3 separate regions of the Homo sapiens genome follow, and regions 1 and 3 are each linked to region 2. The links come from fine-mapping of genetic effects on gene expression. A gene starts in region 2. Each other region holds a variant in brackets. All regions are shown on one strand. Distances are from middle to middle. Region 1 overlaps ZFR2 (zinc finger RNA binding protein 2). Region 2 holds the start of MATK (megakaryocyte-associated tyrosine kinase). Region 3 overlaps ZFR2 (zinc finger RNA binding protein 2).

Region 1 (2,500 bases), 46 kb before region 2:
GCTATGAGGACAGGCCGTACTTCCAGTCTGCTGCCCTCCAGTCTGGGCGCATGACAGCCGCAGACTCCGGCCAGCCAGGTGAGCCATCTGCAGGGTCGGGGCTGGGAACGAGGAGACGCTCCCCGCAGCACAGGGAAACCTTGGGAAACTTACTTTTTTTTTTTTTTAGACAGAGTCTCGCTCTGTTGCCCAGGCTGGAGTGCAGTGGTGCGATCTCGGCTCACTGCAAGCTTCGCCTCCCAGGTTAAAGCCATTCTCCTGCCTCAGCCTCCCGAGTAGCTGGGACTACAAGTGCCTGCAACCACGCCCGGCTAATTTTTTGTATTTTTAGTAGAGACGGGGTTTCACAGTATTAGCCAGGATGGTCTCCATCTCCTGACCTCGTGATCCGCCCGCCTTGGCCTCCCAAAGTGCTGCGATTACAGGCGTGAGCCACCATGCCCGGCCTGAAAGTTACATCTTTTCTTTTCTTTTCTTTTTTTTTTTTTTTTTTGAGACGGAGTCTCACTCTGTTGCCCAGGCTGGAGTGCAGTGGTGCGATCTCAGCTCACTGCACCCTCTGCCTCCCAGGTTCAAACAATCCTCCTGCCTCAGCCTCCCAAGTAGCTGGGACTGCAGGCACGCGCCACCATGCCTGGCTAATTTTTTTCTATTTTTAGTAGAAACGGGGTTTCACTATGTTAGCCAGGCTGGTCTTGAACTCCTGACATCAGGTGATCCACCTGCCTCGGCCTCCCAAAGTGCTGGGATTACAGGCGTGAGCCACTGCACCCCGTGAAAGTTACATGTTAACCATCCTAGAGGCCGGGCACGGTGGCTCACGCCTGTAATCCCAACACTTTGGGAGGCCCGAGGTGGGAGAATTGCTTGAACCTAGGAGTTCGAGACCAGCCTGGGCAACATAGTAAGACCCCCGTCTCTACAAAAAATGCAAAAAAATTAGCCAGGCATGGTGGTGTGCACCTGTAGTCCCAGCTACCCAGGAGGCTGAGGTAGGAGGTTCGCCTGAGCCCAGGAACTGAGCTGCAGTGAGCTGTGATCGCACCACTGCACTCCAGCCTGGGCAGCAGAGCAAGACCCTGTCTCTAAAAAATAAAAAAT[A/C]AAAAAAAAAAACAAAATAAAGGCCGGGTGCAGCAGCTCACGCCTGTAATCCCAGCACTTTGCGAGGCAGAGGCGGGTGGATCACAAGGTCAAGCGATCGAGACCATCCTGGCCAACATGGTGAAACCCCATCTCTACTAAAAATAGAAAAATTAGCCGGGCAGGGTGGCGCATGCTTGTAATCCCAGCTATTCGGGAGGCTGAGGCAGGAGAATCACTTGAACCTGGAAGGTGGAGGTTGCAGTGAGCCGAGATCATGCCACTGCATTCCAACCTGGTGACAAAGCAAGACTCCGACTCAAAAAAAAAAAAATAATAATAATGATAATAAAAACATCCTAGATTTGCAGGTGAGCCTCAGAGCTGGCTGCTCAGATGGGCCCTGGGATCTCTGCCAGGTGTGGGCCTATGAATGAAGGAAAGTGAGGACTGAAAATGCAGCTAACATTTTTTCCAAGGAAGCTTTCCCGGGGTGGCAGGAGGTGAGCTCTGTGGGTGATGGAGCTGGAGATGCAGAGGAGCTTGTCTAGGGCACCCACAGCCCTCCTCCCCCATGGCAGGAGAGAGAAGCCGGGCTCTGGAAAGGAGAGGTGGGCACAAGGTAACCTGCGAGTCGCTGCCAGCACCTGGCCCAAGGCTCTGGCCTCTGGTCCTGGCTTAAGCATCTAGCGTGTTCCAGCCAGTTGAGTCCAGGGCCCATCTGCAGGTGAGGGACAGTGGGGTGGGGGTTGGCTCTGCAGAGGGCCTGTCCCTGTCCCCTAGGGACCCAAGAAGCCTGCGGGCAGCCCAGCCCCCATGGCAGTCACAGCCACGCTCAGCCCCCACAGCAGGCGCCCATAGTGGAGTCCGGACAGCCAGCGAGCACCTTGTCCTCGGGATACACCTACCCCACGGCGACAGGCGTCCAGCCCGAGTCGTCAGCTTCCATCGTGACCTCCTACCCCCCGCCCTCCTACAACCCCACCTGCACCGCCTACACGGGTAAGACCAGCGTTCCTTGCCCAGGTGGTCTGCCCGTCGGTCCCCACTTCAACTCAGTGGAATCAGCATCTCCCCCCGACTCATTGTTTTCTCTGCTGCTCAGCACCAAGCTACCCGAACTATGACGCGTCGGTGTACTCCGCTGCCAGCCCTTTCTATCCTCCAGCGCAGCCCCCGCCTCCCCCGGGACCCCCGCAGCAGCTGCCCCCGCCGCCCGCGCCTGCAGGCTCAGGAAGCAGCCCCAGGGCCGACTCGAAGCCACCGCTTCCCAGCAAGCTGCCGAGACCCAAGGCGGGGCCCAGGCAGCTCCAGCTTCACTACTGCGACATCTGCAAGATCAGCTGCGCTGGCCCCCAGGTCAGTCGCCCTCCTGCCATGGGCAGGCCCCAGGGACCTCTCTGTCCCCAACGTCTGAACC
Region 2 (2,838 bases):
CTGGGCATCTCGGTTCATTGCCCTCCTAAGATGAACTTCATCTTTGTTTCAGAGGACTCATCCCTTAGAAAGGATGATAAGGTGCAAGGCGTGGTGGCTCACGCCTGTAATCCCAGCACTTTGGGAGGCCGAAATGGGAGGATCGCTTGATCCCAGGAGTCCAAGACCAGCCTGGGCAACAAAGTGAGACTTCATCTCAAAAAAATAAAAATAAAAATACAAAAGTTAGCAGGGCGTGGTGGCACGCACCTGTAATCCCAGCTACTCAGGAGGGTGAGGAAGGAGAATTGCTTGAACCCGGGAGGTGGAGGTTGCAGTGAGCCAAGATAGCGCCACTGCACTCCAGCCCGGGTAACAGAGCAAGACTCCATCTCAAAAAAAAAAAAAGGCAAAGTGGCCAATTCTTGGATTCCTCCCAGGACAGGGAACTCACCCCCTCCTGAGGCTACCCCTTCTATGGCTCTATGAAAATTTGGGAAAAAAAAAATTACCCTGTGGTCCCAGCTACACGGGAGGCTGAGGCGGGAGGCTGGCTTGAGCCCAGGTGGTCAAGGCTGTAGTGAGCTATGATCACGCCACTGCACTCCAGCCCAGGGGATAGAGTGAGACCCTGTCTCAAAAAATAAATGAATAAAAATAAAGATAAAGGCCTGCATTGGGTGAAAGCAGATTGGGCGTTTTGGTCACCCCAACCACAAAGCCATCGCTGGGGGCCAGGGCCCTGTCCACCAAGACCAAGTGAGATCAAACTGTTCTGTGAGGTGAAAGCGGGTGGGGCCCCCACCCTCCATATGGGGGAGGAAATCCCGGCTGGAAAAGGGGTACCTCCTACCTACGGGCAGAGCCAGGTCCCTCCAACTCCCAGGCCCCCCTTTTACCCTCCAAGGAGGGCAGCTCTAAGAAGTTTGCATCCGGATGATTACAGTTCCCGATGATTCTGTTACTCCAATTTTCCCTTAATGTTGATGATTATGATAATGATATTGATAGCGGCTGACATTTTGAAAGCTTTTTTTTTGTCAACCACCAATAGCCCTCTGAGACGGTGGGTGCTCAAATGGGCGACACTGAGGGAGTTGGAATTGCAGAGTACGAAGTGTCCTCTGGGAGTCCGGGCTTGGCGCCTTGCTTATCTCCCCGGACGGGCAGCTCACTCTCCCTCACCCCCGGTCCCCGCCGCGCGCACTGGCGGCGCCCGTTCCACGCTCCAAGAACCCCGCTTCCCAGGGTGGGTGGGGGGTGCACGCCCGACAGGGCCAGGTCAGGGCCAGGCGTGGAGCCCGCGTGCGCCCCGGGACCCCGCCCGGGGCGCGCGGGAGGCGCCGGGGGCCGCGGAGGCGGGGCGGGGAGGGGCCGGCGGCGGCGGCGGCGCGCGGAGGAGACCGCAGTGCGGCCGGCGCTAGGACCCGCGGGGGCCTCCCAGGCCGCGGCGCCTCCCGCTTTCCCCCACTCCCCGACCCTTCTTCGCCCCCAAAATGAGGAAACGGAGCAACTCGCTCCAAGTTGTGCAGCCGGGACCGCCTCGGGGTGTGCAGCCGGCTCGCGGAGGCCCTCCTGGGGGCGGGCGCGGGGCGCGGCTCGGGGGCGCCCCCTGAGCAGGTGAGCACGTCGGCGGGGAGACGTGGAGAGACCCCGAGGCCGGGGTGGGGGGAAACCCCGAGGGCTCTAGGCGGGGGTGGGCCCGGGACGTGCGCAGGAAGGGCCGGTGTGTGCGCGAGTGTGCGCGTCCCGGGCGCGCAGCGGGTGCGCGGCTGGGGCGGAGGGTGCTCAGAGGCGATCGGACCCCGCGTGGTGGTGGCTGGGGTTTCCTGGGTGCGGGTGTGCGCGGCTACGAGCCCCGGGCGTGTGTACCCGCGCGTCCACGTGGAGGGCTGTGCGCGTGTGGCCGAAAAGCGTGTGCGCGGCCCTGCGTAGCGCCCTGCGTGCCCGAGTGGCCCGGCGCTGGCGCCCAGGTGTTCCAGTGTGGGGCGGCTGTGTGTGTGCCGGGGGCGGGGGACAGGTGCGCACGTTCCCAGGTGTGGAGCGCTTGTGCGCGCGGATGCGCGGGGACGTGTGCGCACACCTGTTTCCACGTGGACGTGGTCCTTTGCTTGTCTGCGCGCAGCTGTGTCCGAGCCCTGTGTGTTTCTGTGCGTGTGCATGCATCCGTATGCGTGTGAGTACACGTGGGACTGGAGGATTTCATGGGAGGCGCATCTTGGAGGGGCCGAGACTCACCCCCCAGCACCGCCCACTTCCCAGCCACTAGCGGTCGGGGAGATGGGGGAGGCAGGGAGGCTCCCCCACCCCTGCAGCAATGAGTGACTTTGTGTGTCTGTCCTGGGTTTGGGGGGGGATCAGAGAGGCTCAGCGGGTGGCCGGAGGAGCCCAGCAGGGCTACAGGACCCGCCCCTGCCCCCAGCTCCACCCCACGGTCAGAGATTCTTGGGAATGACCTTGACTCATCCCTATTTCCCCACCCTGCCCCTGCCTACCAACCAGAAAACAGGAAGAACCAGGCTCGGTCCAGTGGCACCCAGCTCCCTACCTCCTGTGCCAGCCGACTGGCCTGTGGCAGGCCATTCCCAGCGTCCCCGACTGTGACCACTTGCTCAGTGTGCCTCTCACCTGCCTCAGTTTCCCTCTGGGGGCGATGGCGGGGCGAGGCTCTCTGGTTTCCTGGCGGGCATTTCACGGCTGTGATTCTGCTGAGGAACTTCCCCGGGTAAAGATCACTTCCCCACAGGGGCTTGGGGAGCCAGTTCTGGGTCCCATCCAGGATGCCTCTGGGGAGGCTCTCTCTGCCTGCCCAGCCATCGCCCCCACCTGACCTGGGCTGGAAGTGGTAGGAACTGGACC
Region 3 (2,500 bases), 36 kb before region 2:
GGAGGGAGGGGGATGGCACAGCCTGCAGTCTGGGTGGCTCTCCACCCCATGCCGCCTGGCGGGTCTGCAGCTGCAGTGCTTTCTCCTGGAACAGGGTATAAGTGACATGGTTTTTCCCCTCAGGGCCTCCTGAGCCACAGGCAGCAGGCTGCAGACCCCAGTGGGGGAAACCAGCCCAACCTAAATTAGAGGGTCCCGGAGCACCTACCCAAGGAGGCTCAAAGGAAGCTCCCGCGGGCTGCTCTGATGCGCAGCCGGTGGGCCCGGAATATGTGGAGGAGGTAAGTCGAGGCTGTCAAGTCCTGGTGCCCCGGTCAGGGAAGGACCTTCCCATGGATCAGGCTTCGAGACCTCACCCGGCTTCTCCCAGCGAGATTTACAGACCCATCCCCGTTCCTGAGCTGCACAGGCCAGACCTCCATGGACCAAAACCCCGTGCAGACCCGCTTGACACTTTGGGTGCCGGATTTTGGTATCAGCAGGAAATGAATATGGCCCCGTGAGGGCCAGAGACAGGCCGAGGCATTCCCAACAGGGGACCCTGCGGAGCCGTCTGTCTGGAAGGTGGAAGGGATCTGGGCAGTAGAAAGCTCCCCGGGAGGTTGGAAGCCCTTCTGTCTAGCCCCTTTCCTGGGCCTGCGGGACCCTGGGACCTGCCAAGGTCAGGCTGGTGAGCAGTGGAGCCGAGCTCCTGGGCCAGGTCTGCCAGCTCCCAGGCCAGCGGCAGTTCAGACCCCGGTTGGCCTTGTGCGTGCCAAAGAGGCAGGGCTGGGTTTCCTCTGCCTTGCCTGTAGGCCTGGGATTCTTTTAAGAGAAAGGGTCTTGCTGTGTCACCGAGGCTGGAGCACAGTGGTGCCATCATGGCTCACTGCAACCTCAAACTTCTGGGCTCAATCAATCCTCCCACCTCAGTCTCCTGAGTAGCTGGGACTACAGGCATGAGCCACCACTCCCAGCTAATTTTTGTATTTTTTATTTTTTTTGTAGAGATGGGGGTCTCGCTATGTTGACCAGGCTGGTCTTGAACTCTTGGGCTCAAGCAATCCTCCAGCCTCCCATGGTGGCGTGTGCCTGTGGTCCCAGCTACTCGGGAGGCTGAGGTGGGAGGATCGCTTGAGCCCAGGAGTTTGAGGCTGCAGTGAGCCAAGACCGAGCCACTGTACTCCACTCCAGCTTGGGTGACACAGCAAGACGCTGTCTCTAAAAAGACATACATAAATAAAATGAGCAGCAAGGAGGAAGGCTCCGCCGCGACCTGGCAGCGGTAGCATCTCACATCCCACCCCGCCTCGTGCCTGGTGCGCGTGCGGCTGTTCTGTGTCTCAGGTGTTCAGCGACGAAGGGCGAGTGCTTCGCTTCCACTGCAAGCTGTGCGAGTGCAGTTTCAACGACCTTAACGCGAAGGACCTGCACGTGAGGGGGCGGCGGCACCGGCTGCAGTACCGGGTGCGTCCAGCAGGGGGAGCTCCGACACCCGTCCGGGCTGTGCTAGGGCCCGGCGGGCGCTGGGAGGCCT[G/C]TGGTCGGGCCTCTTCCGCGCGTGTGATCCGACGAACTTAAGAGGGAGGGGTGATTTTCTGGGTTTTCAACGTCTTGGTCCTCGTCTCAAAAGTGTATCTTCGGCCGGGCGCGGTGTCTCACGTCTATCATCCCAGCACTTTGGGAGGCCAAGTTGGGTGGATCATTTGAGGTCAGGAGTTCGAGACCAGCCTGGCCAACATAGTGAAATCTTTACTAAAAATACAAAAATTAGCCAGGTGTGGTGGTGCGCACCTGTAATCCCAGCTACTCGGGAGGCTGAGGCAGGAGAATCGCTTGAACCCGGGAGGCGGAGGTTGCAGTGAGCCGAGGTCACACCATTGCACTCCAGCCTGGGAGACAAGAGCAAGACTCTGTCTCGAAAAAAAAAAAAAAAAAAAAAAAAAGGCTTTGGGAGATTTTTCAGCCCAACAGTTCTAGTCTCTGGGCCTCTCCCTGCACCCCAAGATCCTCCTGGCATCCCTGTCTAAAGCAAGGTCCCTACTCTCAGAGCCTTGCCTGTCCTTTCCAGAAGAAAGTGAACCCGGACCTTCCCATTGCCACGGAGCCCAGCAGCCGGGCTCGGAAGGTCCTGGAGGAGCGCATGAGGAAGCAGCGGCACCTGGCGGAGGAGCGGCTGGAGCAGCTGCGGCGCTGGCACGCGGAGAGGAGGTGCCCGGCTGCGGGTCTTGGCAAGGGGGCCTGGTGAGGGAGGGCAGGTCCAGCGTGGAACCTAGACGCCCACTGCTGCAGATTACGGAGCTCCTCCGTGTGAGCTCTCGAGCAGTGGGGGGAGACGGGTGCCCGGGCAGTGGGCACGTCCTGGTGTGGGAGCGTGAGAGGGTTCCAGAGCAGACGGGCAAGGGCACAGTGGCGTGCGGACCTGACACGTGGGCTCCAGGGCCTCCGTAGACGCAGGGACACTGCCGGCCAACTCGCTGGACCACACGGCTGCAGAGGTGCCTTGTGACCTGTGTCCCCCGAC

Evidence for each region.
Region 1: its variant is fine-mapped to the expression of MATK in whole blood (INTERVAL, PIP 0.97).
Region 3: its variant is fine-mapped to the expression of MATK in whole blood (TOPMed, PIP 0.96).

Annotation. Positions count from the first base shown.
Region 1 is chr19:3,831,242-3,833,741 of GRCh38, reverse strand. ZFR2 (zinc finger RNA binding protein 2) reads left to right here. Exons shown (of 19, transcript NM_015174.2): 3 at 1-78; 4 at 1,864-2,082; 5 at 2,186-2,439. Among named protein-coding and RNA genes, the nearest start is that of ZFR2, 37 kb to the left of the region's middle. RefSeq lists an enhancer at 1,900-2,489. The variant A/C (reference allele first, on the strand shown) is at 1,102.
Region 2 is chr19:3,784,930-3,787,767 of GRCh38, reverse strand. It overlaps MATK (megakaryocyte-associated tyrosine kinase), which reads left to right and starts at 1,387. Exons shown (of 14, transcript NM_139355.3): 1 at 1,387-1,599; 2 at 2,482-2,704. The coding sequence starts at 2,633. RefSeq lists silencers at 230-428, 2,303-2,597 and enhancers at 2,303-2,597, 1,959-2,838.
Region 3 is chr19:3,821,027-3,823,526 of GRCh38, reverse strand. It overlaps ZFR2 (zinc finger RNA binding protein 2), which reads left to right. Exons shown (of 19, transcript NM_015174.2): 8 at 124-281; 9 at 1,327-1,446; 10 at 2,048-2,187. Among named protein-coding and RNA genes, the nearest start is that of MATK, 36 kb to the right of the region's middle. RefSeq lists an enhancer at 1,568-1,727. The variant G/C (reference allele first, on the strand shown) is at 1,517.